Linked DNA regions of Homo sapiens. The protein of the gene in region 6 interacts with the protein of the main gene of each other region in a biochemical or structural test. Each region holds a gene or a part of one and is shown on either strand. Other genes may lie near its edges.

Evidence for each region.
Region 1: the proteins of PTPRD (region 6) and SLAIN2 form a complex in vitro, tested with the Homo sapiens proteins (one study listed by BioGRID and IntAct).
Region 2: the proteins of PTPRD (region 6) and PAK6 form a complex in vitro, tested with the Homo sapiens proteins (one large-scale study listed by BioGRID).
Region 3: the proteins of PTPRD (region 6) and LRFN2 interact in a biophysical measurement, tested with the Homo sapiens proteins (one large-scale study listed by IntAct).
Region 4: the proteins of PTPRD (region 6) and SCEL form a complex in vitro, tested with the Homo sapiens proteins (one large-scale study listed by BioGRID).
Region 5: the proteins of PTPRD (region 6) and LRFN3 interact in a biophysical measurement, tested with the Homo sapiens proteins (one large-scale study listed by IntAct).
Region 7: the proteins of PTPRD (region 6) and SLITRK1 are reported together in a solved structure, tested with the Homo sapiens proteins (one study listed by BioGRID).

What each region holds. Positions count from the first base shown.
Region 1 is NC_000004.12:48,414,529-48,418,028, forward strand, and holds part of SLAIN2 (SLAIN motif-containing protein 2), read left to right. Parts: intron 1-3,500.
Region 2 is NC_000015.10:40,266,563-40,270,062, forward strand, and holds part of PAK6 (serine/threonine-protein kinase PAK 6), read left to right. Parts: intron 1-3,500. UniProt on the Homo sapiens protein: Serine/threonine protein kinase that plays a role in the regulation of gene transcription. The kinase activity is induced by various effectors including AR or MAP2K6/MAPKK6.
Region 3 is NC_000006.12:40,430,365-40,433,864, reverse strand, and holds part of LRFN2 (leucine-rich repeat and fibronectin type-III domain-containing protein 2 precursor), read left to right. Parts: intron 1-733; 5' UTR 734-751; coding exon 752-2,151; intron 2,152-3,500. UniProt on the Homo sapiens protein: Promotes neurite outgrowth in hippocampal neurons. Enhances the cell surface expression of 2 NMDA receptor subunits GRIN1 and GRIN2A. May play a role in redistributing DLG4 to the cell periphery.
Region 4 is NC_000013.11:77,570,206-77,573,705, forward strand, and holds part of SCEL (sciellin), read left to right. Parts: intron 1-1,918; coding exon 1,919-1,984; intron 1,985-3,500. UniProt on the Homo sapiens protein: May function in the assembly or regulation of proteins in the cornified envelope. The LIM domain may be involved in homotypic or heterotypic associations and may function to localize sciellin to the cornified envelope.
Region 5 is NC_000019.10:35,935,120-35,939,173, forward strand, and holds the start of LRFN3 (leucine-rich repeat and fibronectin type-III domain-containing protein 3 precursor), read left to right. Parts: upstream 1-1,254; 5' UTR 1,255-2,436; intron 2,437-4,054. UniProt on the Homo sapiens protein: Cell adhesion molecule that mediates homophilic cell-cell adhesion in a Ca(2+)-independent manner. Promotes neurite outgrowth in hippocampal neurons.
Region 6 is NC_000009.12:8,317,503-8,321,002, forward strand, and holds part of PTPRD (receptor-type tyrosine-protein phosphatase delta isoform 1 precursor), read right to left. Parts: intron 2,465-3,500; coding exon 2,329-2,464; intron 441-2,328; coding exon 372-440; 3' UTR 1-371.
Region 7 is NC_000013.11:83,879,675-83,883,790, reverse strand, and holds the start of SLITRK1 (SLIT and NTRK-like protein 1 precursor), read left to right. Parts: upstream 1-1,316; 5' UTR 1,317-1,787; exon of another isoform or gene 1,788-2,230; 5' UTR 2,231-2,283; coding exon 2,284-4,116. UniProt on the Homo sapiens protein: It is involved in synaptogenesis and promotes excitatory synapse differentiation. Enhances neuronal dendrite outgrowth.

The DNA.
Region 1 (3,500 bases), on a different chromosome or scaffold from region 6:
AAGCAATGCAATTGGTGTGGTATTTTTTTTTTTTTTTTTTTTATTATACTCTAAGTTTTAGGGTACATGTGCACATTGTGCAGGTTAGTTACATATGTATACATGTGCCATGCTGGTGCGCTGCACCCACTAATGTGTCATCTAGCATTAGGTATATCTCCCAATGCTATCCCTCCCCCCTCCCCCGACCCCACCACAGTCCCCAGAGTGTGATATTCCCCTTCCTGTGTCCATGTGATCTCATTGTTCAATTCCCACCTATGAGTGAGAATATGCGGTGTTTGGTTTTTTGTTCTTGCGATAGTTTACTGAGAATGATGGTTTCCAATTTCATCCATGTCCCTACAAAGGATATGAACTCATCATTTTTTATGGCTGCATAGTATTCCATGGTGTATATGTGCCACATTTTCTTAATCCAGTCTATCATTGTTGGACATTTGGGTTGGTTCCAAGTCTTTGCTATTGTGAATAGTGCCGCAATAAACATACGTGTGCATGTGTCTTTATAGCAGCATGATTTATAGTCCTTTGGGTATATACCCAGTAATGGGATGGCTGGGTCAAATGGTATTTCTAGTTCTAGATCCCTGAGGAATCGCCACACTGACTTCCACAATGGTTGAACTAGTTTACAGTCCCACCAACAGTGTAAAAGTGTTCCTATTTCTCCACATCCTCTCCAGCACCTGTTGTTTCCTGACTTTTTAATGATAGCCATTCTAACTGGTGTGAGATGATATCTCATAGTGGTTTTGATTTGCATTTCTCTGATGGCCAGTGATGATGAGCATTTCTTCATGTGTTTTTTGGCTGCATAAATGTCTTCTTTTGAGAAGTGTCTGTTCATATCCTTCACCCACTTTTTGATGGGGTTGTTTGTTTTTTTCTTGTAAATTTGTTTGAGTTCATTGTAGATTCTGGATATTAGCCCTTTGTCAGATGAGTAGGTTGCGAAAATTTTCTCCCATGTTGTAGGTTGCCTGTTCACTCTGATGGTAGTTTCTTTTGCTGTGCAGAAGCTCTTTAGTTTCATTAGATCCCATTTGTCAATTTTGGCTTTTGTTGCCATTGCTTTTGGTGTTTTGGACATGAAGTCCTTGCCCACGCCTGTGTCCTGAATGGTAATGCCTAGGTTTTCTTCTAGGGTTTTTATGGTTTTAGGTCTAACGTTTAAATCTTTAATCCATCTTGAATTGATTTTTGTATAAGGTGTAAGGAAGGGATCCAGTTTCAGCTTTCTACATATGGCTAGCCAGTTTTCCCAGCACCATTTATTAAATAGGGAATCCTTTCCCCATTGCTTGTTTTTCTCAGGTTTGTCAAAGATCAGATAGTTGTAGATATGCGGCATTATTTCTGAGGGCTCTGTTCTGTTCCATTGATCTATATCTCTGTTTTGGTACCAGTAGCATGCTGTTTTGGTTACTGTAGCCTTGTAGTATAGTTTGAAGTCAGGTAGTGTGATGCCTCCAGCTTTGTTCTTTTGGCTTAGGATTGACTTGGCGATGCGGGCTCTTTTTTGGTTCCATATGAACTTTAAGGTAGTTTTTTCCAATTCTGTGAAGAAAGTCATTGGTAGCTTGATGGGGATGGCATTGAATCTGTAAATTACCTTGGGCAGTATGGCCATTTTCACGATATTGATTCTTCCTACCCATGAGCATGGAATGTTCTTCCATTTGTTTGTGTCCTCTTTTATTTCCTTGAGCAGTGGTTTGTAGTTCTCCTTGAAGAGGTCCTTCACATCCCTTGTAAGTTGGATTCCTAGGTATTTTATTCTCTTTGAAGCAATTGTGAATGGGAGTTCACCCATGATTTGGCTCTCTGTTTGTCTGTTGTTGGTGTATAAGAATGCTTGTGATTTTTGTACATTGATTTTGTATCCTGAGACTTTGCTGAAGTTGCTTATCAGCTTAAGGAGATTTTGGGCTGAGACGATGGGGTTTTCTAGATAAACAATCATGTCGTCTGCAAACAGGGACAATTTGACTTCCTCTTTTCCTAATTGAATACCCTTTATTTCCTTCTCCTGCCTGATTGCCCTGGCCAGAACTTCCAACACTATGTTGAATAGGAGCGGTGAGAGAGGGCATCCCTGTCTTGTGCCAGTTTTCAAACTATCTCTCAGACCACAGTGCAATCAAACTAGAACTCAGGATTAAAAATCTCACTCAAAGCCGCTCAACTACATGGAAACTGAACAACCTGCTCCTGAATGACTACTGGGTACATAACGAAATGAAGGCAGAAATAAAGATGTTCTTTGAAACCAACGAGAACAAAGACACCACATACCAGAATCTCTGGGACGCATTCAAAGCAGTGTGTAGAGGGAAATTTATAGCACTAAATGCCTACAAGAGAAAGCAGGAAAGATCCAAAATTGACACCCTAACATCACAATTAAAAGAACTAGAAAAGCAAGAGCAAACACATTCAAAAGCTAGCAGAAGGCAAGAAATAACTAAAATCAGAGCAGAACTGAAGGAAATAGAGACACAAAAAACCCTTCAAAAAATCAATGAATCCAGGAGCTGGTTTTTTGAAAGGATCAACAAAATTGATAGACCGCTAGCAAGACTAATAAAAAAAGAGAGAAGAATCAAATAGACACAATAAAAAATGATAAAGGGGATATCACCACCGATCCCACAGAAATACAAACTACCATCAGAGAATACTACAAACACCTCTACGCAAATAAACTAGAAAATCTAGAAGAAATGGATAAATTCCTCGACACATACACTCTCCCAAGACTAAACCAGGAAGAAGTTGAATCTCTGAATAGACCAATAACAGGCTCTGAAATTGTGGCAATAATCAATAGTTTACCAACCAAAAAGAGTCCAGGACCAGATGGATTCACAGCCGAATTCTACCAGAGGTACAAGGAGGAACTGGTACCATTCCTTCTGAAACTATTCCAATCAATAGAAAAAGAGGGAATCCTCCCTAACTGATTTTATGAGGCCAGCATCATTCTGATACCAAAGCCGGGCAGAGACACAACCAAAAAAGAGAATTTTAGACCAATATCCTTGATGAACATTGATGCAAAAATCCTCAATAAAATACTGGCAAACCGAATCCAGCAGCACATCAAAAAGCTTACCCACCATGATCAAGTGGGCTTCATCCCTGGGATGCAAGGCTGGTTCAATATACGCAAATCAATAAATGTAATCCAGCATATAAACAGAGCCAAAGACAAAAACCACATGATTATCTCAATAGATGCAGAAAAAGCCTTTGACAAAATTCAACAACCCTTCATGCTAAAAACTCTCAATAAATTAGGTATTGATGGGATGTATTTCAAAATAATAAGAGCTATCTATGGTGTGGTATTTTTAATCTTGATTTCTAATGTTCGTTGCTGGCATATAGAAACATAGTCAGTGTTTGTATTTTTATCCAGTTCTGTGACCTTACTGAATTCACTTATTATTTCTAGAAGTGTGTGTGTGTGTAGATTCATTGGGATTTTCTGTGTA
Region 2 (3,500 bases), on a different chromosome or scaffold from region 6:
CCTTCCCCTTGGAGGACTGGCAAAGAGGCTCCCTGGACTGCTTCCGCCTAAGGCGGCAGAAATGTGCACGGTAACCTCTTCTCTAAGGAGGGTGGCTCGCCTCCTCCTTCCCTCCCTTCCTTTCCTTCTTTTCTCTGTGGCTGTTGTGTTGTTTCCCATTTCTGTCAGTATTTGTTCCCAAGTGTGTGGCCATAGGAAAAGCTGGATTTGCCTAGTCCAGGGGCAGCAGGAGGCCGACTTGTGGCATGTGTGACTGCTTCAGACGCACATTTTTCTTGTGAGAAAGGAAAGGGTGAAGGGAGCCCCCGTGGTGACATTTCTTGGCAGGCAGAGTGGAGCGCACCTTTTTGCTTCTTCCAGGCCCTCCAGCATCCTGTTGATAGTGACAGTAACCTCTTTTCCCATTTGGCAGAGGAGGAGACTGATAGAGAGAGGGTGAGTCACCCCCAGGCATGATGGAGAGTGAGTCAGAGAAGGAAGGTGGGGAGTGCTCTGGGGCTGCCTGTCCGGCCCGGGCCCTCTTGGCTCATGACTCTTGCGTATGAAGGCTTTACAAGCACAGCAGCCACTTGTTCTTTAGCTCCTTCCTGGGAGGGTCAAAGGCAGTCCTAAGAAACGGCTGCTGACAGTGGCATGGGTAATGGAGCCTCCCCTCCCTCCTGGGAGGGCTTTAAGACAAGCCTGGGTACTCCCCTGTCATCGGTGGGGTGAGTGTGGCCCAGCCTGCACAGGGTGTGGGTTTGGGGATGACCCGGACTACAACCTCTCTGGGTCACTGCCTGCCAGCTGAGGTACTCAGAGAAAGTTCTGGGCGGCCGCGCGTGGTGGCTCACGTCTGTAGTCCCAGCACTTTGGGAGGCCAAGGTGGATGGGTCACGAGGTCAGGAGATCGAGACCATCCTCGCTAACACGGTGAAACCCCGTCTCTACTAAAAATACAAAAAAAATTAGCCGGGCGCGGTGGCGGGCGCCTGTAGTCCAAGCTACTCAGGAGGCTGAGGCAGGAGAATGGCGTGAACCCGGGAGGCAGAGCTTGCCGTGAGCTGAGATCGCACCACTGCACTCCAGCCTGGGGGACAGACAGAGCGAGACTCCGTCTCAAAAAAAAAAGAGAAAGTTCTGAGCTTTGTGCACTCTAGTCCCCTACTAGGTTAAAGGACAGTGGGTTGGGATCCCCATGGGTTGTGGCTTGATGTATCTGTGAGAGGAACACGAGCATCTGTGAGCTGCAGGGTGTCTGGAAGGCTGTGCCCCTGGGGAGACTCAGCCAGAAAACCAACGTAAGATCAGGACAGTGCACCCTGCTGGGAAGGTGAGATTCGGAGCTTGACCTCCCTCTGTCTCTCAGGAGTCCTGCTGCGAGGCCTCAGGGATTTGGAGAAAGGGGTTGTCAACACTGGGCTGGGCACTCATTTGCATCTTTCTGGGCTCCTGCCAGCACCCCACAGCAGGGGGAGAGGCCTGTCCATCCCTGCACAATGTACTGAGTACTCACCATGGGCCACTGCTGCTGGGTATGCCGGGATGTCCCCCATACTTGTGGGAGCAGGCGGTAGTTATCTCGAGCTCAGCAACACCATACTTCCAAATCCAGGGGAGTGGTTTCCTTCTGGGCAACTCAGACACATCTTTCAAGATTTCTACTCTGAAGCCAAGCCTCTCAATGGCAAGCTGAGACCCCCCGAGCTGCTCCGGGCCGGGGCTTCTCAGCGTCCTCACTGCAGGCGCTCAGGTCAGTCCATCCTTTGTGGTGGGCTCTCCTTGCACTGTAGCAGCCTCCCTGGCCTCTACTCACTAGAAGTTGGTGGTACCCTCGGTTGGAATAACCAAAAATGCCTCCAGACACTGCCAAATGTCACTCGAGCACACCCATTAAGAACCACTGCCTTAAGCAAATTCAATAACAGATGGGGAGCATCAGCCTTCCTCCTCCTCCTCCACCACCACCTACCCCAGGAGTCCCCAGATCAAGCCAGCAGCCCTTGGCACTGGGGCTGACTCTGGACACTTGCAGCAGCTTCCATAACAGCAGTTAGGCCACAGAGGCCATGCAGTGTGCCAGGCATGGCTGCAGGAGGGTCTGAGTATAGACTCCAGGGCTCCTGTACCTAGCCCCAGGCAGTGAGGCCTGGAGTCACTCTAGCTAAAGAGATCAGGAAGACAGGGCGTGGGGGCACAGAGACCAAAGAGGCAAGACAGTTTTTTAGGAGCTTGCAGGGATTAGACATGTTCCACTTAGAGTCAGAAGGGCAAACATTGGTTAAGCACCTACCGTGTACTCCGATATATGTCAAGGATACATGGCACCAGTGGGATTGCAGCATGGGAGTCAGCAGCCACGGGCGTCCTGCGGGTTCCAGTGCCTACAGGACAACCAAACAACCCACAGGGTTATGAGGATTACATGAGATAGTACGTTGAAGGCACTTGTCAAAGTGGTAAGCCCTCAATAAATGGCTTTATTAGTAGTATTTGAGATGGCGTCTCCCTCTTTCGCCCAGGCTGGAGTGCAGTGGCACAATCTTGGCTCACTGCAACCTCCACCTCCTGGGTTCAAGTGATCCTCCCACCTTAGCCTCCCAAGTAGCTGGGATTACAGGCACGCTCCACCATACCCAACTAATTTTTGTATTTTTAGAAGAGATGGGGTTTCACCATGTTGCCCAGGCTGGTCTTGAACTCCTGACCTCAAGTGATCCACCTGCCTTGGCCTCCCAAAGTGCTGGGATTACAGGCACCTGAGCCACCATGCCAGGCCGGCTTTATTATTTTTAAAAATATTATGCCATGGCCTCTCCCCTTTAGGATACTTAAGGTATAGCCCCCTAAGCCCACAGCTGGGGAGCCATGGCTCAGGGCGGGAAATGAGGCATTGCTGTAAATGTATGCATGACTCTTCTAGTGGCTTTCTTCCCAAGAGGTCTATCACATGAGTAACTTCAGAATTAATCCAGAGCCTGTAACAATTAATTAATTCTGTTGTCGTGTCCCCCTTTCCCTTTCTTGTGTGGCCTCACAAGTTTCATCTGGTCCTTGCTTGTGATTACATTGATAAAAGCTCCCTCCCTGTGGAGACAGGCAGTGAAGCCAACGAAAGGATGCTAGAGACCAGACCTTGCCAGGCTGAAGACCAAGCCAGCTCCCCAGACTCCCCAGCCTATGTCCCAGACTCTGCTTGTGCTGGGCTCCTGGCTGGGCCATCCCTCCCCCAGCCTCCAGACGCAGGCTCCGCCCTGAGCCCAGCCAGCACCTGCAGCAGCAGCAGCAGCACAGGGACCTGGCCTGTGGAGACAGGGAAGAAACCCCTACCTCAGCCTGTCCACGTGGTACCCACACATCCTCAGAGTAGAGCTGGCCCATGCAGAAGCCCTCAAGGCCAGGAGGGGAATGATCTCATTTTACAGCCTTTCTTAGGAGCTTCAGGATGAGAGGTCATCAGAGCCACCTCAGGAGGAGCTTTAGGTGGTCCCCAAGCTTCTGCCCCGACCCACCTGGATGGG
Region 3 (3,500 bases), on a different chromosome or scaffold from region 6:
GATAGAGGCTAATTGCTTATGAAGGGTTCAGAATTCACTCCTTTGCCTCCCATCACACCTCCTTCTTCACTTCCCACATTCTCAAAGATTCATAAACTATGTGGATTCTCCTTGGTGAAACAGTTCCCCACTGACCTTGGAGTCTCTCAGCACCAACTCTCTTCTTATCTACAACCTCATTCTTAAGGAATGCTGGTTCAATTTAATTTCATGCTAAGCCTAAACCAATTAAGAATGTAAAATTATGCCTCAAAAAACAGCCATAATATCCTTTCAAACTCAATTATTGGATAAGCCAATGATATGGTATCGCATTCATCCATCCATCCATCCATCCATCCACCCATCCATCCATCCATCCATCCAACAGATAGTTATTGAGCAGCTACTGTGTTCCAGGCATTGAGCTAGGTAATTGGGATACAGCAATTAGTAAAACAGGCAAAAGTACCTGCCCTCTTTGGAGCTGACCATAGAGGACTGAAACAGGAAACAATAAATAAACATCATAAATAAGTAAACTAAATAGTGTGTTAGAAGGTGATAAAGCTAAGGAAAAGAGAAACAGTAAAACTGCATTAGAGGGATTCATGGAAGAGATTAGGTCTTGCTTGAGCACTTGCCATTCTATGCCACTCCCTAAGGCAGTGAGGGTTAATGTGAGGGAGGAAGCTCTGGGTGAGTGCATTAGGAATTTGCCTCCTGACCCTGAGCTTGTGTTTCTCCCTTCCAGGCGCTGAGTGACCAGACCATGGAGACCCTGCTTGGTGGCCTGCTAGCGTTTGGCATGGCGTTTGCCGTGGTCGACGCCTGCCCCAAGTACTGTGTCTGCCAGAATCTGTCTGAGTCACTGGGGACCCTGTGCCCCTCCAAGGGGCTGCTCTTTGTACCCCCTGATATTGACCGGCGGACAGTGGAGCTGCGCCTGGGCGGCAACTTCATCATCCACATCAGCCGCCAGGACTTTGCCAACATGACGGGGCTGGTGGACCTGACCCTGTCCAGGAACACCATCAGCCACATCCAGCCCTTTTCCTTTCTGGACCTCGAGAGCCTCCGCTCCCTGCATCTTGACAGCAATCGGCTGCCAAGCCTTGGGGAGGACACCCTCCGGGGCCTGGTCAACCTGCAGCACCTTATCGTGAACAACAACCAGCTGGGCGGCATCGCAGATGAGGCTTTTGAGGACTTCCTGCTGACATTGGAGGATCTGGACCTCTCCTACAACAACCTCCATGGCCTGCCGTGGGACTCCGTGCGACGCATGGTCAACCTCCACCAGCTGAGCCTGGACCACAACCTGCTGGATCACATCGCCGAGGGCACCTTTGCAGACCTGCAGAAACTGGCCCGCCTGGATCTCACCTCCAATCGGCTGCAGAAGCTGCCCCCTGATCCCATCTTTGCCCGCTCCCAGGCTTCGGCTTTGACAGCCACACCCTTTGCCCCACCCTTGTCCTTTAGTTTTGGGGGTAACCCACTTCACTGCAATTGTGAGCTTCTCTGGCTGCGGAGGCTCGAGCGGGACGATGACCTGGAAACCTGTGGCTCCCCAGGGGGCCTCAAGGGTCGCTACTTCTGGCATGTGCGTGAGGAGGAGTTTGTGTGCGAGCCGCCTCTCATCACCCAGCACACACACAAGTTGCTGGTTCTGGAGGGCCAGGCGGCCACACTCAAGTGCAAAGCCATTGGGGACCCCAGCCCCCTTATCCACTGGGTAGCCCCCGATGACCGCCTGGTAGGGAACTCCTCAAGGACCGCTGTCTATGACAATGGCACCCTGGACATCTTCATCACCACATCTCAGGACAGTGGTGCCTTCACCTGCATTGCTGCCAATGCTGCCGGAGAGGCCACGGCCATGGTGGAGGTCTCCATCGTCCAGCTGCCACACCTCAGCAACAGCACCAGCCGCACTGCACCCCCCAAGTCCCGCCTCTCAGACATCACTGGCTCCAGCAAGACCAGCCGGGGAGGTGGAGGCAGTGGGGGCGGAGAGCCTCCCAAAAGCCCCCCGGAACGGGCTGTGCTTGTGTCTGAAGTGACCACCACCTCGGCCCTGGTCAAGTGGTCTGTCAGCAAGTCAGCACCCCGGGTGAAGATGTACCAGCTGCAGTACAACTGCTCTGACGATGAGGTACTGATTTACAGGTGAGCAAGCGGCTGTGGCAAAGGCAGGGAGGGTGTCTGGCTGGGGAAGGAGGAGGGGATGGGGAGGTCTTGGGGCTGCTCCCACCTATACCCCTCTTCCCCAAAGGTGTCTGTGGGGATTCTGGGGCAAACTGTGCCATTCGTGCAGGTAAGAGGAGATAAAAAGAACATCAACTACAAGGCTAAGAAGAAAAGAATCCACACGGGCAGCCTGAGAGATATGTGTAAAGAAAGACCACACCTCCCGGCTGGGTGGCTGTGGTCAGTGGTCTTATGGCTATGAGCTTATGAATGTTCTGTTCTAAGCCCAGTTGGAGGATATACAAGGACAATGAATAGACCTCTTGGCTGAAGGTTCTGACTCCCCAAAAGAGGCATGCATTTGACCTTCACCTGGACTCATATGCAGTCATGGTTAAGGCTCTGAGGTCAGAAAGAGTGAGATTCAAATCATGGCTTTTCCACTTGCTAGTCATTTCATTCTCCTGGCCTCCCTCAGTTTTCTCATCTGTAAGATAAGGATAATTAATACCTGACTTAGTTTGGACACTCACTAAATGCACTTATTCAGTTTTGGTAACTGAATCAAACTGGCTTTTAAAAAAAAAAGAGAGAGAGAAAGGGAGGGAGAGTGTGTTGACTCATGTCATTAACAAGTCAGGAACCTGCTTCAGGTTCAGCTGGATCAAAGGTCCCCTACAAATCTGTATTCTCAGTTTCTTACCTTCCCTAAGTTCTATTTTTCTCTGGGTTGGCTTCACCGTCAGGGAGTCTCTTTCCCCTGGGAGACCTCTGCTGGGTCCTCTAAGCAGCCCTAGAGCCTACTTAGAGCCCTAGAGGGAGAAGAGCTTCCCTTTCCCAATTGAGCGCTGACTGAGTCAGACCACATCATGTGAGCCCCCTGGGTCTTACAGGTAGCATCAGCCCTCTCACCTGTGCTGAACCCCCTGGGCCTTAGTCTCTGCATCTAGAAGTGAAGACAATGGTACTGACCTTGAAAAGTTCTCTGAAAATCAAGGGGTCATTTCCTAGGTCTGGTAGAAAGGGAGGTTAAATGTGGAAAGCTGCAATAGAATCACATAAGTCATTCAGAGGAAAGAAGGTCACAGAGTGACAGAAGGCCAGGGGCCAAAATGCTGACCACAGATGAGTTCCCTTATATGAAACATGAAGGACATGGCCTAAAACCTTACCGCTCAAGGAATGTATGGTGTCCTTTGAAATTCTGTGTGTTTTATTTTATGCATGTAAAATGATTGTTTGGAGATGGGATCCCATGAGTTTCATCACACAGCCAAAGGGCCCATGGTGCAAGAGAGATCAAAAATACTTGATCCATCCTGGAGGTC
Region 4 (3,500 bases), on a different chromosome or scaffold from region 6:
ATGGTGCTGCTGGAGAAAAATGACTGATTCTGTTTTTTCCTTCAACAAAATTCTGGCTGTAGCTGCAAAGTCTTAGAAAATGTGATTCATCTTTCCATTGAACCCAAATTTCATGTCCCTTGACCCTTTGCCTAGTAAAAACAGATTCCTAAGTTTGAAAGAGAAATTTTAGGTCAGTCAGTTCCATCTCCTATCTAGTGCAAGAATCTTTCCTCCGACATTTTGGGCATAATTCGGGACCACTGAAGCCATCAATAAGATTCTCACTATTTTGGGACACATCTTTGACTTGCTCTCCTGGGTAGCATCTATTCCTTACATTGAGCTGGAATCTGCCTTGATTGACTCGTTCCTTGTCTTAGTTGAGTTCTGCAGCGGCTCAGAGAATAGACCTACTTAAACAATTTAAATCCAGCTTTCCTGTCTGCCTTTTCTTCTGTAGTGCATATCATTCTCATCTGAATATCTTCAGTTTTCATCCATATCTTGATCTTTCTGCTTAGCAATTGCTACCAACTAAAATTATGACCTAGTGATGTGAGGACATCTTTCTAATTGAGGTTAGAACTGAAGGTAGTGCTGCTATAATATTCACTTACGCTTTCAATATTTTTACTTGTCAGAGTTTTCTATCAGTTTCTTTTCTTTTTCTTTTTTCTTTTTCTTTTTTTTTGGAGTGTGCAGTGGTGCAATTTCGGCTCACTGCAACCTCTGCCTCCCAGGTTTAACCAATTATTTGCCTCAGCCTCCCGAGTAGTTGGGAGTACAGGCACATGCCACCACGACCAGCTAATTTTTGTATTTTTAGTAGAGATGGGGTTTCACCATTTTTGCCAGGCTGGTCTTGAGCTCCTGACCTCGTGATCCACCCGCCTCAGCCTCCCAAAGTGCTGGGATTACAGGTGTGAGGCCCTGCGCCTAGCTCGCTCACAGTTTTTTAAAAATTGTATTTTGAGGCCGGGCGCGGTGGCTCAAGCCTGTAATCCCAGCACTTTGGGAGGCCGAGGCGGGTGGATCACGAGGTCAGGAGATCGAGACCATCCTGGCTAACACGGTGAAACCTCGTCCCAGCAACTCGGAGGCTGAGGCAGCAGAATCGCGGAGGGCGGAGCTTGCAGTGAGCCGAGATCGCGCCACTGCACTCCAGCCTGGGAGACAGCGAGACTACATCTCAAAAAAAAAAAAAAAAATTATATTTTGAAGCTGGGCGCAGTGGCTCATGCCTGTAATCCCAGCACTTTCAGAGGCCGAGGCAGGTGGATCACCTGAGGTCGGGAGTTCGAGACCAGCCTGACCAACATGGAGAAACCCCATCTCTACTAAAAATTACAAAATTAGCTGGGCGTGGTGGTGCATGCCTGTAATCCCAGCTACTCAGGAGGCTGAGGCAGGAGAACTGCTTGAACCCGGGAGACGGAAGTTGTGGTGAGCGGAGATCGCGCCATTACACTCCGGCCTGGGCAACAAGAGCGAAACTCCGTCTCAAAAATAAAAATAAAAATAAAACATATATATATATATATATAGAGTAGAGTATAAGATTGTTATTTCTGTTGTGAAATAGTTCAGACAAGCAGAAAAATAGGGAGAATAGGAGAATAACATAATAAACATATATGAATTTACTATCTAGACTTAACAATTGTCATTGTTTTCTAGATTTGCTTTAGATTTCTTTTTAAAAGAGATGTCCACGTTACTTAGTGCTAAAGGAAATGAGAAAAGAGGTTTACTTGGAGGAACAGATAGCCTAGAATATAGGACAGTTACTTCCTACTTCATTTATGAAATAGTGTTCATTTTACTTCCAAGGTTTGGTATAATCTCATTGTCTTTTTAACTGTCAAATTATTTTCAGACATGTGGGTGGGATCAGCCTTTCAATCACAATGTTTATTACCGTGTCATTTCTTAACAGGCAGTCCTGGTTTCCACCGCCCCCTCCAGGTTACAATGCCTCCTCGAGCACAGGAACCAGGAGACGGTAAGGGAAAGGTGTCAGGCGTAATTGCTGTGCCATTAGATGGAAGAACATGTCAGACATTGACAACATATAATTGTGGATGTTTTGGGATAAATTGGAGGCAATCTCATGAACTCTCAGCTCTGTACAGGAGAGTGTCCAGTGGTTGTAAGGTCAGGGCTACCAAGTACCCTGATAGGACATCTGACAAACTGCTAGGAATGAGTAGGTGGCTGTATTAGATTGCTAGGGTTGCTTAGAGCCAAAATAAATGAGTGCCACAAACTGGGTGCCACAGACTGCCACGAAGTGCCACTGGGTGGCTTAAACAACAGGAATTTATTGTCTCATGGTTTTAGAGGCCAGAAGTCCAAAATCAAGGGTTCAGCAGAGTTGGTTCCTTCTGAGGACTGTTAGGGCTCCCCTAACTTCTGGTGGTTTCCTGGTAATCATTGACATTGCCCAGTTGGTACAAGCATTGACCTGATCGCTGCCTTCATCTTCACATGATCTTCTCCCTGTGTGCACGTCTGAGTCCAAATTTCCCTTTGTTATAAAGCAACTAATCATGTCTGTCCTACTACAGTATGACCTTATCCTAACTGAACTAATTACATCTGCAATGACCCTATTTCTAAGCAAGGTCACATTCTGAGGAATTGTGGATTAGGATTTCAACATGTGAATTTTGGGGGCAGAGGGGACACAACCCTTAACAGTGACAGTGGGAGAGAACAGAGTCAGGCATCAGACAGGGGTTCCAATGTGGGCTCTTGATGCCCAGCTGCCTCCAGGCTGTGCAGAACCTGGAGAACTGGATGAGGATATGTGTGGCAAGTTGTTCATAAACGTTAAGCGACAAATGAATATTTTCTAATTTTATTTTTTGTTGAGAGTAATAGTTATAACTAAATGATAGATCAGGTAGAGGACACCTTATTCTACAATTTCCATGCTAGGAATGCCAGCAACAATTCAATGTAATAAATATTTAATAAACACTGCTGTGTGCCAGATATTATTCTAGGATCTTGGGATATATCAGTGAACAAAACATGGAGCCTACACTCTGGTCTTTAAAGAATCATGTTGTATAATCGATATCATCACTAACTCAGAAACAAAAACAGGTCTCCTATTTAGTTTACTTTTCAGGTATCCAAAGATGTTTTTATGTCTCAACATCTAGAATATTTTCATGTTTCAATGGGATCAGTTTTTCTAATTCTGACTATTGGAAAAGAAAATATTTTTAAACTCTGTGCTTATTTCATATTAGATTGGTTTATTTTATAGAATTTTCCTCTACTGTGCAGACTTCTAATGTCTCTTTCATTTCCAAGTAATGGATATGTTTAGAAATACATGTATTTTGCAATAATTTGAGTGGGCTCTATAAGGATGTAAATAAACTGTAGTTGGTCAATAGACACAAAGAGCTCAAGTTGCTTTTTTTATATCTGTCATTACATCTATCTATCTATCTATCTATCTATCTATCTATCTATCTATCTGTCTATCTATCTAATCTATCTCT
Region 5 (4,054 bases), on a different chromosome or scaffold from region 6:
AAGCAAGACCCTGTCTCAAAAAAAAAAGTATGGTCTTTGAAAAGTCACATTAGCATCACCTGGGTACTCGTTAAAAATGCAAATGTTTGGGTCCCACCTCAGACCCACTGAACCAGAAACTCTGAGGTTGGGACCTGGAGATCTATGGTGCCCCCGGGTGATCCTGGTGGGCTGCACTGCAAGGACACCTGGCCTGGCTCCTGCAAGGCAAGGCATCCCTCTCTGCTTTTCTTTCTTTCTTTCTTTCTTTTAAAGACAGAGTCTCACTCTGTCACCCAGGCTGGAGTGCAATGGCTGGATCTCAGATCACTACAATCTCCACCTCCCGGGTTCAAGCAATTCTCTTGCCTCAGCCTCCCGAGTAGCTGGGATTACGGGCGTCCGCCACCACACCCGGCTAATTTTTGTATTTTTAGTAGAGACGGGGTTTCTCCATGTTGGCCAGGCTGGTCTCCAACGCCTGATCTCAAAAGATCCGCCCGCCTTGGCCTCCCAACGAGCCGGGATTACAGGCGTGAGCCACCGCCCCCGGCTGTCAGTGTGTCTTGAGGTCTTTCCCTAATCCCAGATGGCACAAGTTTTCCCTCTTGCAGGCAGAGAAAGGAGCCTTGGGAAGGAGCCCCTCTGGCCTGAAAGATCAAGCCTATTGCTGGGCATGGCCAGGTAAGGAAACTCCAACCGTGGAAAGGACATTCCAGGGAGGTGGTGCTGAGATAAGGGGGGCAGAAAGAGACAGGTTTGGGGGGCCAGTGGCTCTGGAATGAAGCGCTACACTCAAGGCTAGGAATAGTTACTGAATGCACATACACACATACCATTCTCACAGCCCAGGTGCTGCGTCTTAGAGCGTGTGAGTGTGTATGTGTGTGTCTGTGTGTGCGCGCGCACGCACGTCTCTATCTCTGTTTCTGTCTTTCTCTGACTTGTCCTTATCTCTTGTCTCTCCATCACTCTCTGTGTCTCGCTGTCTCTGTGCATTTCCATGTCTCGAATATGTGTGTGTTTCAATCTGTCTCTCTGCCTCTTTCCATTTTCTCCTCTCTATCCATCAATCTAAGCCTGCCCATCTTTTTGTCTGCCTTTCTGTATCTCCGTTCTTCTCTGTCTCTCTGTCTCAGTCTCTCTGTATCCAGGGATTCTCTTTCCCAGCAGCGCCAGTGCGACTCCATGGGAGGTGGGGCCGGGGCGCGTCTTTGAGAGAAGGGGCGGGTGCCTACGCCTTTAAGCGCGGGTGCGCGCGGAGCCTGCGCCTTTAAGCGCCGGTGCGCGCGCTGCCCTGGGTTGCCGGCGAGGAGGCCGCGGGAGCGCCTGGACCCGGCCCGCCCAGCCCGGCCCCCGCCCGGCCCCCGCCTCGGCCCCGGCGGGGGAGGGGTCTCTGAGCGCGGCCCCTCCCCCCTGCGCCCCCGCCTGCGCTGCGGTGCCCCCATCCCGCGTGTCCCAGTCTGTCTGACCGTCCCTCCGCTCCCAGGCCTCGCCCCACCCGGCCCTGGGGCTGCCCGGTCGCCCCCCTCCCCACCGCAGCCGGTCCCCTCCCTCCCAGTCAGCCTCCGCCGCAGCCCAGGAAGCCAGCCGGGACGCCGCCGCCCCGGACCCCGCGCCCTAACCTCCACCTCGGGGGCCTGCACCCCCAGATTGAATCGGGAATTCCGGAAACCCGAGCCTGGAACCCTGATCTGGGACCAGCACCCCGAGATCCGGCCGTGGAACCCCAAGATCTGGAGCCTGAACCCCAGTATATGGGGCTGGAATCTCAACATCGGTCACTGGGACCTCAATATTTGGAGCCGGAACCCCACAATTTGGAACACAGACCCCAATATTTGGAGCAGAACCCCAAGATTTGACATCTAAAACCTCAAGCCTGGAGCTGAACTCTGAATTCTGGGCCTGGGACCTTGAAATCTGGGACTGGATTTCCAGTACTGTACCCTGGAACCCACTCTTGGGGACCTGAACCCTGGGATTCAGGCCTCAAATTCCAAGATCTGGACTGTGGGATTCCAAGGGGCCTGAACCCGAGTTTGGGCCTGAAGTCCTTGCTGCAGACCTGAGTGCTTAAATCTGGGGCTTGAGACCTCCCAATCTTGACTCAGCACCCCAATATCTGAATGCAGAACCCCGGGATCGGATCTCAGACTCTAAACCCCACCGTTTGGCTGCTTAGCATCCCAAGACTGGACCTGGGAGACCCTGACCCTGAACAACCCAAACTGGACCCGTAAAACTGGACCCTAGAGGCCCAATATTTAGGGGTCTGGAACCCCGAGTATTAAGGTCTGGAGACTCCGTTGCCACAGATTTGAGCCGAGTCAGGACACAGTCCCTCTACAGAAGCCTTGGGGACAGGAAAAGCATGACCAGATGCTCCCTCCAGAGCCCTGACCTCTGACTCCCCTGGAGCTAGGACTCTGCTCCCTGGGGCTGCTTCTAGCTCAGGTAAGGCTGCTGAAACCTCAAGGTGGGGACGGGCTGGGAGGAGCATTGTGGCTGCGGGTTACGGTACCAGGTACCCTTTGACACTCTTGGGGTTTCTCCAGAAAAAAAGACATTCCCCCATGGGTCTGCCTTCAGCTCCTGCTCTGCTCCAAACACTCTCTGGACACTGGCCATCCTTGCCCCTCTCTGACCTTCCCTGCCTCAGTTGATGGGACCTCCAGGTCTCTGACCCCTGCAACCCTTACAGCCTTTCGCTGTCTATCCGGTCCGACCGTCTCCGCCACCTCTCTTGTCCACCACTCCTCTCTCTGGGCTCCTTTCTCCACCTGTCCTCTCAATGGCCATCTCTGTTCCCTTTTTCTCTCTCTGATCATCTTTGTGACACCCCTGTCCACAGGTCCTCTCTCCAGTCGCCTCTGCCTGCTGCTTCTCAGTGACCATCGCTGACATCTGTGTCCACTGTGCCTCTCTCTAATCATCATTCACCAGCTCTCTTGCTCCTTCTCCACCCCTGAATCTAAGCCTAGGTCTGTGACCGTCCCCATCCATCTTTGACATTGCTGTCCACCACTCTTCTCTCCAGCAGCCTCTGTCCATCTCTCCTCTCTAGCTTCCTCTGGCCACCTTTCCCTTTCTCTGGCCATCTCTCCCACTGCTCTTGCCCTCCTCCCACCCCTGACCCTAACTCCCAGTCTGCAACTGTCTGACCATCTCTGGCCACCTCTCCTCTCTCTCTCACTCACTGATGCCCTCTGATCATCTCTGGCCACCTCTTCTCTCTCTCTCACTCATTGATGCCCTCTTGATCATCTCTGGCCACCTCTTCTCTCTTTCTCACTCACTGATGCCCTCTTGATCATCTCTGCCCACCTCTTTTCTCTCGCTCGCTGATGCCCTCTGATCATCTCTGGCCACCTCTTCTCTCTCTCTCACTCACTGATGCCCTCTGATAATCTCTGGCCACCTCTCCTCTCTCACTTGCTGATGCCCTCTGATCATCTCGAACATCTCTGCTGCCTTTCCTCTCTCCGATGACCTCTCCCCGCACCATCCTCCTGAGCAGCTGTCCTGGGCTCCCACTGACTCTGCCATGTCTGTCCTTTTCCTCCTCTCTGACCACCTTGCTGGCTTTGGGCCGTTTCTGACCACGTGTCTCTGACATGGTCATCTCCCCCAGATCTGAGCCCAACCCATGCCCTCCCTTCTCTTTGTCCACTGCTCATCTTCCTGACCATCTGTAACCCCTTCTCTTCTCTGGTCATATCTGACCACTTCTGATCATTGTTGCCACCCTGGCTGCCCCGTCTCCCCATGGCCAGCTTTTACCATCTCTGACCACGTCTAAAGCCCTCTGGTTTTCCTGCCACTCACCCAGACCAGCTGTCATTTCTCTGACCATTTCTTTACTTTTTTCTTTTGGAGAGACAGAGTCACGCTCTGTTGCCCAGGCTGGAGTGTGGTGGCGCAATCATAGCTCACTGCAGCCTCAAATTCTTGGGCTCAAATTGATCCTCCCACCTCAGTGTCCCATGTAGCTAGGACCACAGGTGGGCGCCACCATGCCTAGCTAATTTTTAAAAATTTTTGTATAATAGATACACGGTCTCACTTTGTTGCC
Region 6 (3,500 bases):
TCTTGTGCTGAACTGCAGCATTCTGGCAATTTCTCCTTGCACCTTTCAAGCAATCCTGAATAAGATGGTGGTTCTTTGCTGTGATTTCTTCTTCCCTTGATTTTGAATCCTTGAGGTATCTGTAAATAAAATCCTTCAGATGCCTCATCAGTCAGGATTCTCTTCATTATTTTTCAGGTTAGATTATTAAACTGTGAATTCTTGGTCCACCTGGAATAATTTGTTTTTAATTTGTTTTGTGTGTAATAGTCCCACTAAGTAGTTGTTAGCTAGAAGTTAAGAAGGACTTCTCAAGTGCCCTGTATGGCTCAGAAGAGACTCCATGGATATTGAAGGGCCTGTAGTAAAAATCCAGAATGGGTCAGGGGTTTCTACGTTGCATAGTGGTCAAAGCTGCCCAGGTACTCTAGTGCGGCACGATAGGAAAACTGATATTGATCCTGCAGGAGACAATGAATGGGGAGAAGCAAAAGAAGGGACCATGAGCATATTTTAATAGAAAAATAAAAATCAATATTGCATAACAAAATAACATCTATATAGGGGCAAAATCACTACTTTCGTCAACTGGTCTAATCCAATGACCAATTGTTTATAGTGAACAAAGAAAAAGCCACATGGGGTGTTGATTAACTTTGCCAATCAATTTGACTAAAACGATCTCCCAATTCCAAGCAGTGGCAGGTCGAGTGAACATTACCTTCCCAGACAAGTGTTTTCCAAGTAGTATCAAACCATTACCACCAATTGAACACATAAACTTCTTACATGCCTTATAAGCAGATAATGATGAAAATCATCCTTTACAATTATCTGCTTATTCAAGATAACTAATTCTCAGTTTAAATATTTAAGAGAGGCTGATACAGACACAAACTGTCCTGAGAAAAATCTGAATTTACTTATCTTCTGAACTACTGCCAACAGAATTTGAATTTTTAAAAAATTATGTTTGGACAGTAGAGCTTGCAGTGAGAATCACTCACAGTCATTTCAGCTACCCTTTGGCTGTCTCTCTCACTTACATATGATGTTCATATACAGCCAGAAGGTAGCTGGTGCGGCACACCAGGCACACAAATCCATTTACACAGGGCACTGGACTTCCAAGCTTTCCATCCCTGAAAATGGCTTCACAGGACTGGCTGCCCACATCAAAAAATACCTGTAAATTCAGCCCAATTCTGTGTGATTGCTAGTTGTCTGTTTTAGAGAGGCACACACTAAAAAAAAGCAGTATGAAGCATGGCCTTTTTCAGACAACGAAGAACACTATCATATTGGAATAAATTGAAGCATTGTTGGAGAGATGGAAAAATCACAATTTACAGCTCTCTATAGGGATGAGGAAAAGGATTTTCCCCATAAAAGAAACCTATTTTCAGTGGCCAATCGGGCTGAAAGTAGACAGATAGTTTCTATTTTGCTTAAATGTGCATTTTTCTGTAATAAAAATGGTTGGTAATGCAAAATAAATGGTGTTTACTTTCCTATCTTGTCACAGTAAGTTGCTTGGCTGAGTGTTAAGGCTTTTTAAATGTCCAATTTCCCTCTGTAACCCCTAAGACCCATTAAGTTTGTCAAGCTGGCATAATGTTTTGACTATTGCAAGCCAAACACTTGCACTACTTTGAAATCCGTCTGAAAGATACTGTGGATGATGAATTGAGGAACACATATAAGTTGTATAATTTGGTGGCCTTTTGCAGAACATAAACTCTATCAGTAATATTATCTTTAGAAATGAATGCTCAATAGACCAGACTGGCTATATCATAAACTCTTATTATTACGAGAAATATCCAAATTTCCATATTAATTATTGGAATAGGAAATGAGGGGCTAATATTAATATCTCTAGGCTTATCCAGAATCAAAATGTTTTGAATGGCCATTGTTAAGACATGAAATATAGAAGAGCTGATACCTCTGTAGGCATACAGAGGGAGAATGGAGAAGTTAAATGGGCTGAGATTATATTATGTACTAAATATTATGCTTTCTATATATTTATATATTTATATTATAGGACTATGAATATAACGAATTTTATGAAATTGCCATTTTATTGGTCAAAAATGGTCCAGTAGTAAAATTTAACATAGCTCAATCTAACATATAATCTCACATAATTTCTATAGCAACACTAAGACACTAATAATCTCATCCCATTTAAAAAGGGGGAAAATGAGGTTCAAAATTATTAAACAGTTTGATGCTTTCCCCACAGTATTTTGTGTCTGGTGTTGAGAGAGTATGGAGTCCGGGAGGTCCAGGCTAGCAAAACGTAGGCTCTTGAGATGCGAAAAATGCAATGGATTTTCTCACCTCTGTCTGTACCATAGCTGGTCGTTGTGTTCTTAACATTTTGACAGTCTGGAAGATATCTACAACTCCTTCATATCTCATTCTTTCCAAAACAATGCTTAGCGTTATGAAGACTCCAGTTCTTCCAACGCCCGCGCTGCCACAATAACAAAGGCGATGTTACTGGGTGAGATGTTCACAGTCTTGGCCACATTTGCTTGGGTGTGGACATACTTCTACCAGCTTCCACACTCCGTATCTCTTTATAGCCATATTCAGGAAAACATGGTATCACATTCATCAAATGATTACTCTTGGGATACTGAGTTGTAACAGCATGTGATAATGAGGATGAAGTAATTAGGAGTAAGTCTAATAAAAGGTCTTTTCAATGGGGATTTATACCATTTTAGAAAGACCAAGGAAACATAACAAATGAAAAGAAAGGGTAAATAACATATAGGTTTATAATATTCATGGAGATTCTGAAATTTACAACCTGCCTACTTAATATTTTTAAAGTATGAAATAATTCAGAATAAGGTGAAGTGAATTTGGCATCTTCAACTTTTCTATCACACTGTTCACATTTTGCAGTTACTTAAAATACATATGCGATGCCCATAACCTAAATGTATTTGCCTATAACTAGTCAAATGTTTACACTGGTTTTATTATGAGAAAAGAGATGGTATAACAGGGTATATACGTGATTTTCACTTAGTCTTCAGGAGGGTTTATGACTATCCTGTAAGTGTACGTACACATGAAGTAAATACTATGTTGTTTTCTTATTTCTTGAGACTTAGAACTTTCAACAGATTCTCACAGGGGTCTCTAATCTTAAAAAAAAATGGTTAAGAGCCATTGATCTCTGAACTTAGCTACCATTTTTACATGATCAGCAACTAAAACCACATTAGAAAGGTTTTGAGTTTCTCTCTGTTGTCTTCATTGTTTTAAGATAACTCCAGAATCTTCACGGTAGCAAGAAAGAAAATTAATTCATAGCTCTTGTGCACTTAAGGAGGAAAGCAATGGGAAGTTCAGATAATGAGGGAAACAGTGAATAATCTGAAAAATCCCTGCATTTTTGGATCCTAATTAAACAGCATGTGTAACACTTGGGCACGGGCTGTAGAAAATAGATGGATTCATTTACTGGAGGGTGTAGCTGACAGGCATATATAAAT
Region 7 (4,116 bases), on a different chromosome or scaffold from region 6:
TTCCTTGAACATTTGCTCTTTTGCACAAAATATTAGCAAGCTCGTTGCAGCTGTCCAACTTGCAAAAGACCTAATTAAAAAGGCAAGTGGTGTAAACATATCCTCTCTGCATAGAGTGAAGAAAGGGCCAAACAGTAACTCTATTTAAAAGACCTAAAAATTTCAAATCCTAAAATGATCTATAAATATTTTAGGACGTATTGATGTGAAAAGGTGTCGACTCTGAAAGGAAAAGTCAGCAAAAGAGGCTTCACGGAAGCAGCATGTTCACGTTTTCTTCCATCCCAGAAGGTGATATTACTGGATTTTTATAAGCTCAGAGTTTGGAATCTGTTGTTTCCTTAACTGGAAAAAGCCTGAGCTTCGTGTTTCCCCAGCATCAGTGACCCAACAAGCATCTGCGCGAAGAGGAGCTGCCGGCTACCTGCAGAGAGCGTTCTCGCTGAGCTTTAGAGTCCAGAGATTTCTATCTCCTCCTCTCAAAATGCAACTGGTTATTTACTTGTAAACATTTAAATTAGTTCAAACTGATGTGAAAACTTTGTCAGTGGGGTGTGTGTGTGTGTGTGCGTGCGTGTAGTGTGCGCGCGCCTGCCTGCCAGTGGGTTTTTAACAGCACTCACAAATCATCTTGGGATTTTTCCCTGCCCCCTCTCCCTTCTTTTCCGGTTCTCAGTTAAAGCTTTCGGGACTGGAATCAAGGACTTCAGCATGCATTGTGTTTCACCCTCCAGAGTTAAATAACATTCAAGAAATATCAAAGAACCTAACTCTCAATGACCAAATTGACTAAATTTCTGCAAGTTTTAAAAAGTATATGCCTAATTTATATACCTTGCAAAAAAATTCATACTCAATTATGATATTATGTAACATATATGTTCCGAAAGCCACTTTGAACATACCAAAAGAAATGTTTCAAAGACATCAAATAGCGTAAAACACTGTGCCGCAGAGAAGGAAGAAATGCATTTAAAGAACCGATGAAAATGGCGTGCAGTATAATTACCTCAAATTGCTGTTCGCTTGACACCCTGACACTAATTTTATTCAAGCCATTGGGAAATAAATGTTTTAAAAGCACTCCTTTCCGAATGGTGGAGCTGGTGGGGGCTGTGAACTCGTTAAGGAAAGGAAAGGGTAAAGTTTCCAGCACGCAAAAATAATCAAATAATCCATTTAAAATAAGCATCTATGTAGATCGTCAGCCTTTTATGCCCACATTTTTAACGCTTGCCCTGTACGTGGATTGATTTTTTTTTCTTTCAGCATTCCCTAGCCAGATGGATTTTTGCTACTGCAGATCAGCAGAGGGTGTCAGATCTTTCAGAGTGCACCAGGCTGGAACGAGCAGAGCTTCTTAGCAACTCTCTTCTCCGCCCCCCTCCCCTCATTCTCGCGCTCTCTTCCTCCCTCAGACAACTCGCCCCCCGCCCTCCGCCCCCCTCCACGTAATTCCGAAAGAGCAGAAGAAAGAGAAGGAGAACAGGAAAAGAAGAGCTAGTAAGCGAGAGCGAGAGCACAGAAAAGAAAAAAAAAAGCCTTAAGAGGACCGAAGGGGAGGAAAGGAAAAGGATGGACAACCACAAAACGCAGCGATTGCGGAAATTTTCCAGCGCCATTGGCTGGGCAGCGTGAGTCCTTCGGTCGGGCGTGATTTCAGCACCGGGGGAACTGGACAGCACCTCGGGGGGACTTCTGGGCAACCCGCAACCACAGCAAGAACTCCACCAGCAGCCTCAACAACAGAAGCCGCGGAAAACCCTGCTTTGTATCAGAGAGGCAAGGTCAGTCCGACGCACAGCCATGCACAGGCAGTGCGCCTGTACTACGCTGCAAACCCTCTGCTTGTTTCTCTAACATGCACTTGCTTCTAATTACTAGCATTGTTTCATTTCTGATCAGTGAAGATCAGTAGATGAGATTCTGTAAGGGTGTACTTTTAATTTATATGTATATATTTAACTTCTTTTTCTGTTATTTTTAAAGTGTTGTGGGGGAGTGGGGTTTTTTTCCTACTTTTTTTTTTTTTTTTTTTTCTTTGCTTGCCTTGCACTACGTGCCTGGATAGTTTGTGGATATAATTATTGACTGGCGTCTGGGCTATTGCAGTGCGGGGGGGTTAGGGAGGAAGGAATCCACCCCCACCCCCCCAAACCCTTTTCTTCTCCTTTCCTGGCTTCGGACATTGGAGCACTAAATGAACTTGAATTGTGTCTGTGGCGAGCAGGATGGTCGCTGTTACTTTGTGATGAGATCGGGGATGAATTGCTCGCTTTAAAAATGCTGCTTTGGATTCTGTTGCTGGAGACGTCTCTTTGTTTTGCCGCTGGAAACGTTACAGGGGACGTTTGCAAAGAGAAGATCTGTTCCTGCAATGAGATAGAAGGGGACCTACACGTAGACTGTGAAAAAAAGGGCTTCACAAGTCTGCAGCGTTTCACTGCCCCGACTTCCCAGTTTTACCATTTATTTCTGCATGGCAATTCCCTCACTCGACTTTTCCCTAATGAGTTCGCTAACTTTTATAATGCGGTTAGTTTGCACATGGAAAACAATGGCTTGCATGAAATCGTTCCGGGGGCTTTTCTGGGGCTGCAGCTGGTGAAAAGGCTGCACATCAACAACAACAAGATCAAGTCTTTTCGAAAGCAGACTTTTCTGGGGCTGGACGATCTGGAATATCTCCAGGCTGATTTTAATTTATTACGAGATATAGACCCGGGGGCCTTCCAGGACTTGAACAAGCTGGAGGTGCTCATTTTAAATGACAATCTCATCAGCACCCTACCTGCCAACGTGTTCCAGTATGTGCCCATCACCCACCTCGACCTCCGGGGTAACAGGCTGAAAACGCTGCCCTATGAGGAGGTCTTGGAGCAAATCCCTGGTATTGCGGAGATCCTGCTAGAGGATAACCCTTGGGACTGCACCTGTGATCTGCTCTCCCTGAAAGAATGGCTGGAAAACATTCCCAAGAATGCCCTGATCGGCCGAGTGGTCTGCGAAGCCCCCACCAGACTGCAGGGTAAAGACCTCAATGAAACCACCGAACAGGACTTGTGTCCTTTGAAAAACCGAGTGGATTCTAGTCTCCCGGCGCCCCCTGCCCAAGAAGAGACCTTTGCTCCTGGACCCCTGCCAACTCCTTTCAAGACAAATGGGCAAGAGGATCATGCCACACCAGGGTCTGCTCCAAACGGAGGTACAAAGATCCCAGGCAACTGGCAGATCAAAATCAGACCCACAGCAGCGATAGCGACGGGTAGCTCCAGGAACAAACCCTTAGCTAACAGTTTACCCTGCCCTGGGGGCTGCAGCTGCGACCACATCCCAGGGTCGGGTTTAAAGATGAACTGCAACAACAGGAACGTGAGCAGCTTGGCTGATTTGAAGCCCAAGCTCTCTAACGTGCAGGAGCTTTTCCTACGAGATAACAAGATCCACAGCATCCGAAAATCGCACTTTGTGGATTACAAGAACCTCATTCTGTTGGATCTGGGCAACAATAACATCGCTACTGTAGAGAACAACACTTTCAAGAACCTTTTGGACCTCAGGTGGCTATACATGGATAGCAATTACCTGGACACGCTGTCCCGGGAGAAATTCGCGGGGCTGCAAAACCTAGAGTACCTGAACGTGGAGTACAACGCTATCCAGCTCATCCTCCCGGGCACTTTCAATGCCATGCCCAAACTGAGGATCCTCATTCTCAACAACAACCTGCTGAGGTCCCTGCCTGTGGACGTGTTCGCTGGGGTCTCGCTCTCTAAACTCAGCCTGCACAACAATTACTTCATGTACCTCCCGGTGGCAGGGGTGCTGGACCAGTTAACCTCCATCATCCAGATAGACCTCCACGGAAACCCCTGGGAGTGCTCCTGCACAATTGTGCCTTTCAAGCAGTGGGCAGAACGCTTGGGTTCCGAAGTGCTGATGAGCGACCTCAAGTGTGAGACGCCGGTGAACTTCTTTAGAAAGGATTTCATGCTCCTCTCCAATGACGAGATCTGCCCTCAGCTGTACGCTAGGATCTCGCCCACGTTAACTTCGCACAGTAAAAACAGCACTGGGTTGGCGGAGACCGGGACGCACTCCAACTCCTACCTAGAC